3 linked regions of the Homo sapiens genome follow. The protein of the gene in region 1 interacts with the protein of each later gene in a biochemical or structural test. Each region holds a gene or a part of one and is shown in the gene's direction. Other genes may lie near its edges. The genes, in order: KCNJ12, GOPC and PALS2.

The links.
Region 2: the proteins of KCNJ12 (region 1) and GOPC interact in a test that uses a peptide from one of them, tested with the Homo sapiens proteins (one large-scale study listed by IntAct).
Region 3: the proteins of KCNJ12 (region 1) and PALS2 interact in a test that uses a peptide from one of them, tested with the Homo sapiens proteins (one large-scale study listed by IntAct).

What each region holds. Positions count from the first base shown.
Region 1 is NC_000017.11:21,379,241-21,382,898, forward strand, and holds part of KCNJ12 (ATP-sensitive inward rectifier potassium channel 12), read left to right. Parts: intron 1-3,658. UniProt on the Homo sapiens protein: Inward rectifying potassium channel that probably participates in controlling the resting membrane potential in electrically excitable cells. Probably participates in establishing action potential waveform and excitability of neuronal and muscle tissues.
Region 2 is NC_000006.12:117,562,048-117,564,576, reverse strand, and holds part of GOPC (Golgi-associated PDZ and coiled-coil motif-containing protein), read left to right. Parts: intron 1-1,192; coding exon 1,193-1,323; 3' UTR 1,324-2,529.
Region 3 is NC_000007.14:24,677,836-24,681,493, forward strand, and holds part of PALS2 (protein PALS2), read left to right. Parts: intron 1-1,295; coding exon 1,296-1,498; intron 1,499-2,556; coding exon 2,557-2,685; intron 2,686-3,658.

The sequences.
Region 1 (3,658 bases):
GGGCCACAGTTGGCAGTACCAAGCGTGGCACCCGGAGGCCTTGGCATATGGCTGGGGCGGAAGTGAGTGCATCATTACTGTCATCAACCTCTGTGGCCCTCGCCAGGTCCCCAGGCAGAAGGCTACTGGTACACACGGTGCCCACCCAGTGGCCACCCTCACCCCCCCTGCTCCCAGGCCCAGCTCTGGGCTGGGCCCTTCCTCCAACAGGTGCAGCTGGTGCCTGTGGCTGGGCCCTGGCCAGGGCTTTACTGTGAGCGACACATGGGTACACCTGCCCCTCCCCGGGCCTGCCCTTGGAGCCCTGCCACCGGCTAGCGTGGAGGAGAGTCAGGGAGGGGGCAGCTTGCGGGCAGCAGGAGGGGTGGAGGCTTGGCTGGCCACATGGAAGGTGCGGTGGGTGGGGGCTCAGCCCCACGGGATGGCTGTGCCGGGAACTGGCAGCGTGATGGGGACACGGCAGCAGGGAAAGGCTGAAGATGAAAGAGAGCTGGCCTGAAACTGGGCCGTGTGCAGGTTGGCCAGAGCTTCAGAGGCACCATGGGGTTGGGGGTGGGGGGGGGCCTGGCAGAGGCAGGTGGGTTTTCTGAGGTGCTGGGCTCGGGGCAGGACCAGAGCCCCCGCTGGGCACTGGCCAAGGACCCAGCCCTGGGTCAGCTGACTTAATTTCCTAATGGCCTGCCAGTGCAGAGGGTGGCATTAGCTCTATTGTGCAGACAGGGATTGGAGGCCCAGGGAGGCACTGGAGGCACCAGCCTGTGGGGCTCAGACCCAGAGCCCTGGTGCTTTCCCAGGGACAGAACTGCACCTTCCCCCATTCCACAGACACACCCCTCAGGGGCATTTGACTGCCAGGCTAGCTTTCTCCCTGCCTTACCACCAGGCAGGTCCCACACAGGGCCTGAGGCCTGCATGCCATCCCAGCTCCCGGGAGCTGTATTCCTAGGACCTAGTTAAGCCCTGGCACAGAGTAGGTGCCCAGTAAATGCTCGATGATTCCATGTCTGGACTGCTTCTTCCAGCCACAGAGGCCTTGCTGTGCTGGTGAGAGCTGTGGGGGCTGAGTTCTGGGGCTGGAGACCCCAGGCCCTGTTGCCTAGCTGTGGCCCCTGTGCTGGGTAGCCATACAGAAGTGCTTAATCAATGGGCATTGCATACGGGGAGACCCAGCCCCTGCCCTCAGGGATCTCACTATCTCAGAGGAGACTCTTGGACAGACTCAGGGGGGCAAGAGAGGCAGATGTTGCCACCAAGATGGGGTCACTCTTCCTGGCCTCAGTTCATCATCTGTGAAGTGGGACTGGCTCCGGAGAGTGCTCAGGATGGGGCAGTAGGAATGTGAGACTTGGAGCGTGCCTCTGGGAGTTGGGGGTGGGGAGGGGCTGGTCTCAGTAGAAATGGACGTGTGGAGAGGGGGATCTGGGAAGGAGGGGGTGTGAGCATTTGTGGAGCCAGAGCCTGGGGAACTCGTCATTTCCCCATCCAACCTTCCCTTGGACATGTAGGGAAGCAGGCCCAGGGCAGGGCAGCGAGTTGCTGTAGCAGTGGGCCCCAGATGGCAGTGGGCCCCAGATGGCAGTGGGCCCCAGATGGCAGTGGGCCCCAGATGGCAGTGGGCCCCAGTGCAGGCCTCCTGTTTCCTGGTGTGTCCTCAGTGTCCCCTAACCCCAATCACCACCACTGGTGCTCCACAGCTCACTCCTTCCTGCCTGGCTGCTGAAGTGGCAGCATGAGGCTGTGGAGACCTTGGGGACCCCCGCCCAGCCCTCTAATTAGCCTTCAGCCATGCATCATTGGACATGGTTCCATTTGCTTGGCCAGATAGGAGTGGGAACCCCTTTCTCAGCTGCCCCAGGGAGCAGTTCCGCCTTGGCTGTGCATTAATGCTGTCCTAGGGTCAGTGGGCACAGCCTCCTGGATCCTGCCTGACTCCCCCTGCCCACCTGGACTGAGCCCTCCCTCCTGCTTGGGCAGCCAAAGCCTCCCTCTCCTGCCCTCACCTGCAGCCCAGGCCTCTTTGAAGGACTCAGGCTTGGAGAGGGGCCAGGGAACAAACAATAAAGCTTATGGAGTGGAGGCTTCTACCAGAGCCACTCTGGGCCATTGTTCCTTGAGCACTTTCTATGTGCCTGGTGCACTCTGGGTGTCAGGGCCCTCTGTCGATTCCCACCACACTCCTCCCTGGGACCCTCAGGGCCCTGCACAGTCTGGCCTCACTTCCAGGACTCTTGCTCCCTCCCCGGGGCCACGCTCCTGCTTGCCTTGCTGTGCTTCCAACAGATCAGGCCCACTCCTACCTCAGGGCCTTTGCACATGCTGCTATCTCTGCCTGGAATGTTCTTTCCCAGATCTCTGCACGGCCCCTCCCTTACCGCTTTCATGTCTTGCCCAGATGCCACCCTCTCTCCAGGACCTCCCCTGATTCCCCTGTGGGACACTGCAGCCTCCCTTTCCCCCATGTTCCTTTTCCTGCTTTATTTTTCTCTGTAGAACTTAATGCTATCTGCCACAATATATTTTATTTGCTGATCTTGTTTACTGTCTATCTTTCCCTTGGAATAGGATCTCCTCTTTTTGGACCTATTCTACCACAGCTGTGTCCCCAGTGCCTAAGCGGTAGGCAGGAGATGGCAGGCGCCCAGTAAACACAGAGAGTGAATGGGCTGCTTCAGCCAGGCCTGGTGCCTGACATGCAGTGAGTGCTTGGTAGCAATGGTAGCCAGCATTGTCAGCCCATTCTGCAGATGAGAAAACTGAGCCTCAGAGAGGTCACTGTCCAAGAACTGTGGCGCTTGTTGGTGGACAGAGCTGGATTCTGACCTTTTCTCTGAGCCTTTGGCCTGCCATCTGTCTGTCTGGCTGAGTGGGAGGGAGTTGGGGCTTCCTTCAGGCCCCTACTCTGGGTGGAGTGCTTTATATCTGTACCCTCACTGCTTCAAGCTCCAAGCCCTGTTGTGTCCTCTAGCACTTGGCCTGCTTCAGCTCAGGATGTCCCCATCTGATTCCTTCTGAGGATCACAAGCCGTTCCCATTGCAGATCCCAGCAAACTGAGGCCTGGGGCGTGGGGCCTCTCATATCTCAGCTGATGGCTGAATCCTTTCTCCTGCCTTCAGCATACATGTTTGGAGGGCGGCTGAGGGGATGGGGCTGGCAGGGAGGGGACAGTGTCTCTGTTTCTTGCCCAGTTAAGCATTCCAGACTCCCCACGGTCATTGAGTTTCATGTCAATGCATTTCACCTCTCCTTTCCAGTCTTTTTTTTGGAACATGACACCCACGTTATAAAATGTTTAAAAATGTTTATGATTTGCAATGATCAACTCCAGCGGCTTTAGTGGCCAGCAGTGATCACCTCTGCAACTATAGAGACTGGCATGCTTTCTGCTTGCCTGAGCACTGCCCGTCCCTCCTCCCCTGGATGTCCATGTTGCCTCAGAAAAGACAGGGCTGGTGGCCCCTTTTGTGGGGAGCAGATAGGTTCTGGTCCTGGGCCTCAGCCAGGTGTGCCCGGTTGGCCAGGTGTGCAGCCAGGTGTGCCAGGATGGGAGATTGTCTCCTGGGGCTCACCTGGGGAGTGGGGGCAGAAAAGGAAACCAGGTAACATGAGGACTGGCAGCAGGGATACTTCTCAGCCCTCCCTGCCTCCACCCCAAGGGTG
Region 2 (2,529 bases), on another chromosome or scaffold:
CGTCTATACTTTATAGATATATATATCACCTAAATAGGTGATATAGTCAACACTTATTTATTTATAAGCCTATTATTTATTTTATAGATGATCAGAATTCGTTTTAAGTTTTAGCTAGACATCATCTTGCCAACAAATTACATTTTAAGCAATTAACTAGTATATGCCTCAGTTAACTGAAGTTAATGTAATATGAAAGCAACAATGAAAAATAAAAATATAATTCACAGTTCAGTAGATATTTATATAAGTAGAATTGACTGAATTTTACAATTATATGTATTACTTCTAAGTCTTACAGACAGCTTGATGGTGGCTCATGCCTGTAATTCAAGCACTTTGGGAGGCCAAGGCAGGAGGATCGCTTGAGGCCAGGAGTTACCAACCTGGGCAACATAGTGAACCCTGTCTCTTCAAAAAAATTTTTAAAATATAGCTGGACATGGTGGCACATGCTTGTAGCTCCAGCTACTCAGGAGGCTGAGGTGGAAGGATTGCTTGAGCCTAGGAGGTCAAGGCAGCAGTGAGCCGTAATCATGCCACTGCAATCCAGCCTGGGCAATAGAGTGAGACCCTGTCTCAGAAAAAAAAAAGAAAAAAAAAAAAGGAAAGGAAAACTTGATAGGAAACTTAATACAATTTTTACATAAGCCCAATATAGTATTTTTAAATCTGTACAATATTTGATACCTGCCATAAGAGGGAAGAATTCCCCTGTTAGGAATTACTGATTTGATTAATATAAGGCATTATTTTTGCCTCAGATTACTAATGTTAATTACTTGGGCATTCCTTTGTTTTTCACTCAATAAACTTATACAACTAACTTTTTTTTTTTTTTTAATTTTTTTAATCGAGACAGAGTTTCACTCTGTCACCCAGGCTAGAGTGCGGTGGTACGATCTCAGCTCACTGCAACCTCCACTTCCTGGCTTCAAGTGATTCTCCTTCCTCAGTCTCCCAAATAGCTGGGATTACAGGCATGTGCCACCATGCCCGGCGAATTTTTGTATTTTTAATAGAGACGGGGTTTCACCACATTGTCCAGGCTGGTCTCGAACCCCTAACCTCAGGTTATCCACCCACCTTGGCCTCTCAAAGTGCTGGGATTACAGGTATGAGCCACTGCACCTGACCAAAACCAACTTTTTAAACCAGAAAGTGTCTGCTTTTTTTTTCTCCTTTCTTTCAGGATTTAATAAGAAGGCAGTAACTGACACACATGAAAATGGAGACCTGGGCACTGCAAGTGAAACTCCGCTAGATGACGGTGCTTCAAAATTAGATGATCTGCACACTCTGTATCATAAAAAATCTTATTAAATTGACCATATCTCCAGACAAGATTGTTAATCAGACTATTCTGAATTTGGGGCACTGGGGAAGATGGTGACAAAGACTACAAAATCAGGGGAGGCTGTTTGTTGCCTAAATGAAAGGCGGGTACCTCAGGGCTTCATGTGAACAATTCTCAATGCATAAAACACCCTGTTTTCTGTGGTAGACCATAATTAGCTATTGCATGTAAAGCAATTTTGATTTTCTTGAACTTGTAAGCACCAAAGCATGTGTTTCCCAAAGGGGTATTACTGGGCTCTTAAGTACCAAATGAAACCCTACTGTTTTACTTGGTTCCTTTTCCCTTTAGTAGGAGGACAGTGCTAACTGGAATTTTATAAGGAGTACCCTTTAAAATACAGAGAGTAAGTGAATTCATATTTTATATTCTAGAATGTTAACTGTGGTATTTCAGAAGACAGAGCTTGACTCAATGAATTGTAGAAATATAGGCTTGACTTAATTTTTGTAACTGAAAGGCTTTAGACTTAAAAAAATTTATTGTGCATCCTAAAATCTAAACCAATTATTAATGATCATTTATTGTAATGAGTTTGCATTTCAGCTTTATTCAATGCAGTACAAAATAGTTTTCTTTAAGCAGTCTTTTATCAATCAATGCTGCACTAGAAATAGATTCTCAAAAGTTACTAAACATTTTACTTTTTTTGTTTTTTAAAAGAAATGCAGATGAGTGTAAAACATCTGTTCTCAATTATGTTGATCTGTGTGCGCAGTACTGGAGCATTTACCCATTCATGTTGAGCCTCAAATGCTTGTTTTCTGGGGTCCACAAAAGACAGTTTTATACATTTTGAGTTGTTCATAAAGTTTGTCTTGTGATAGTCCTGGCACTTAAAGACAAATTTTTCTGGTAGTAAAAGTTCAGATTTATTACTATGTCATGAAACACAGTACATTCAAATCAAACGGCAGTTTTCTTTCTAAGTAAATGATTTCCAGTCATCTAAAAGGTGGGCAAGATGAGATAAAGACATTTTGATACAGTAATTGTTTTGGTTGGGTTTTCATGTCAGTTTATGTTTGACTAAAGCTCTCTTCATATGCAGGTTTATAAATTTGTTAGGTCTGTTGTCCCATGATTAAACATGGAGTGCCTCCTCTCTGATTTAATATTCTGCAGGTCATTGTAACCTGCTAGGCAAAGTCACAACATTGCATTAAAGAGGT
Region 3 (3,658 bases), on another chromosome or scaffold:
AGCCAGAAAACAAGGGGAAAACAGGAGTCCTATTATACATAATGATCTCATTTGACCCTTATTTTTGAGCATGAGTTTGAAGTTCATTTTGTTCTTATAAAAGTTTTCTATGTCTTAGGCTTATTAGAAATAGTCAAAACACTGTCATCTTTTTATTCGGATTACTTTCTTAGTTTAGTTTGGTGTAGTTAATAATTCCATCAGTTATTCTCCAACTACTTAGCTAATAGAAACAGGATACTTCTTATATCCGATCCAGCAAAGCCCAGAGTAAGGCTAAGCTTGAAATAACACGCTCAAAAATTACTTTTCTTCTTCAAAGCTGTTGTTAACAAAGTTGTCAGAGAGTACACATTTGCAACAGTTTAAAAAATGGTAATAACCGTTCCTAGCACAGACCAACTTGCAAAGGGTTGTATGTCTCTGAAAGTATTCAAAGCTGTAAAATATCAGACAAAAGGATCTCCTACTTCTAAATTTTGACTTGAGCTATTCAATCTCATTTTCCCAGAAATAATATGTCAGGTCAGAGGAGAGGAGGTTAATAGACCATAATAATAATGAGGCGTCTAGCTCTACCACTGAAGTATAAAATAGAACAGTTAACATTTGGGAATATCAATAAACAGGAAGCTAAAAGCGTTGGTTTTGAGGTAAGATAAAAGATAGATAATTTGTGGGTAAAACTGCACTTTACAAAATTGGTATCACAACTAAGAACAGGTGAACTTTGCTTGCTCACGTTTTGGGGCAGTTAGGAAGTGTTAATGTGGAAAGAAAAGATGTAATAGATTCCTAAGGAGAAGGAGAGTGCTGGTCAGTTGAAAAGATACTCACTCACAACATGCCTCAAACACTTACCATAATTAAGAACTTCATTGAAGGCTCTGCTGCTAGGTAAATATACTTTGAGTTTCAAAGTGATTTTAAGAAGCATATTTTTGGATACAAATTTTATTTGGGGGACTACCTCTTAAAATATTCCCCTAAGGTATCAAGAAACTTTTCTATTAAAGGGCCACATGGTAAAGTTTTAGGCTTCGCAGTCCATACAGTCTGTCACAATTACTACCACCATTTTAATGGGAAAGAAACCATGTATGATACATAAACAAATGAGTATGGCTGTGGTCCAATAAAACTTTATTTACAAAAATAAGAAGCAGATCAGATCTGGTCATAGCCTACAGTTTGCTGCACCCAGTGGAAAAACGTTAAGCCACCCTATGTATTTTAGTCTATTTTTTATGCCCTAAAATTTCTTTGTACAAAAATCTCAACACTATTTTATTTAGTTACTTCACGGAAACCAAGGGAAGATGAAAAAGATGGCCAGGCATATAAGTTTGTGTCACGATCTGAGATGGAAGCAGATATTAAAGCTGGAAAGTATTTGGAACATGGGGAATATGAAGGAAATCTCTATGGAACCAAAATTGATTCTATTCTTGAGGTTGTCCAAACTGGACGGACTTGCATTCTGGATGTCAACCCACAAGTAAGCTGCTTGGATTCCAAAGCTGTTTTATATTTTATTTTCTGTGGAGTTTTTTTCATGTGTGTCGGGGTTGTTGGGTTGGGGTTGTTTGTTTTGTCAGGGTGGAAAGGTGACTCCCTCCATTACCTTTGGGTGATAGAGAATGTTATTATGTATACATAGCTAGTTAAATAAATCTCTGAACAATTAGCCAACAGAGGCTTGGGTGGCAATAGAAACTGTGTGATTAGATCTACAATAGAAGTTTAGTATGTATTTATTTACCTGTTCAAGTAATGCATAAGTGCTTGTGTTAAGAAATGTTAAGTTTAAAACTCAAGTCTGCAATATAAAGAATAAAAAATTAAAGTCACTCCCCCTCCTACCTGACACACATGCACACCTCTACACTATTCATTTTGTCACTCTATATTTCTGTCACCTACCCCTTCCCACTCCGCTACACTCAGCCCAACCTCACGTCCCTACTCAGAGATAAAAATTGTTAATAGTTTCTTATGTCTCTTTCTAGTCATTTCACTATGCCTTAAATACAAATATATATAAGGTAATGGGTTTTCTGTTTTTGTTGTTTCTTTTTACATAAATGGAAAAATTCTATATAGATTCTTCAGGGGTTTTATTAAATAGAACTATTCCTTGGAGATCTTTTTGTGGTAGTTACTGTAGAGCTTTTTTTCTTTGTAATTGCTATATAGTATGAATATATATTCATTTAACCACTCTCCAATTAATCAACATTGAGGTTATTTCTACTTTTTGAGTATTAACAGAATTCTACAATTAACATAAAAAAGAGTTTACATCACTCTTGATGATTTTTGGATCATTGTTTTATACTTTGTTCAAGAGGAACAGACTGAGTTCAAAACAAAATAAATGGATCACTGTTTTAAGAAAGTACTATATGGAATGAGAAGGACAGAACAGGGATAAGTATTAAGTTATGTCCTTTAATTCATAGAACAAGTGCAAACAGCCTTTGATATATACTAAAGGGTAGCAGAATTCTAGTTCTAATATTGTATAAATTGGCTTATAATTATTCTTTTACACAGGCACTGAAAGTATTGAGGACATCAGAGTTTATGCCCTATGTGGTATTTATTGCGGCTCCGGAGCTAGAGACGTTACGTGCCATGCACAAGGCTGTGGTGGATGCAGGAATCACTACCAAGCTTCTGACCGTGAGCTAACCATACGATTTTCCTTCTAAAATCTTTCCTTTTCTTTTGAGCATGTTTAACTGTTATCTAATTTATTTTTATTTATTTATTTTTGAGGCAGAGTTTTGCTTTGTCACCCAGGCTGGAGTGCATTGATGCGATCTCAGCTCGTTGCAACCTCCCCGTCCCGGGTTCAAGCGATTCTCCTGCCTCAGCCTCCCAAGTAGCTGGGATTACAGGCATGCGCTACCAGGCCTGGCTAATTTTTGTATTTTTAGTAGAGACGGGGTTTCACCATGTTGGCCAGACTGGTCTTGAACTCCTGACCTCAGGCAATCTGCCCACCTCGGCCTCCCAAAGTGCTAGAACTACAGGCGTGAGCCACCGTGCCTGGCCAACTCTTAGCTAATTATGCTTATGAAATAAACATGCTATATAAGGTGCTACAGAATGAAAATTAATTAGATGTAGTTAGGATCTGGAACAGTATTCTTTTACTTGAAAATCATTGTACACTTTATTTTAAATCAAAAGTTTAGTTCCCCTTTGTAAAATGAAATGGACCAATATTAAAATATGCGTATTAATTGAACGCCTTCATTTTACTAGTGGGGTAACTGGGCTCCGAGATCATTAACAGGCATGTTTATTATATGGTTTATCATTGGTAAAGTGGGGTGTTCTGATGTTTAGTTTCTATTACATGTTTTTTCCTTTTTTTCCTGTCTACTTTTTTACTTAATGGAAATTCAAAAATATATACAAAAGAGGGAATAAATGAGTCCCTATGCCGATCGCCTAGCTTCAATAATCGTGGCAATTTCTTGTTTTAATTAGACCCCTCCCCACTTCCTCCTCACCTTGAATTATTTTGAAGCAAATCTTTGATATCATGTCATCTGTAAATACTTCAGTATTTATATCTAAGAGATAAAGACATTTAAAACATACCATTAATACAACAAAAATTAATAAGCAGTATCTTACTATCATC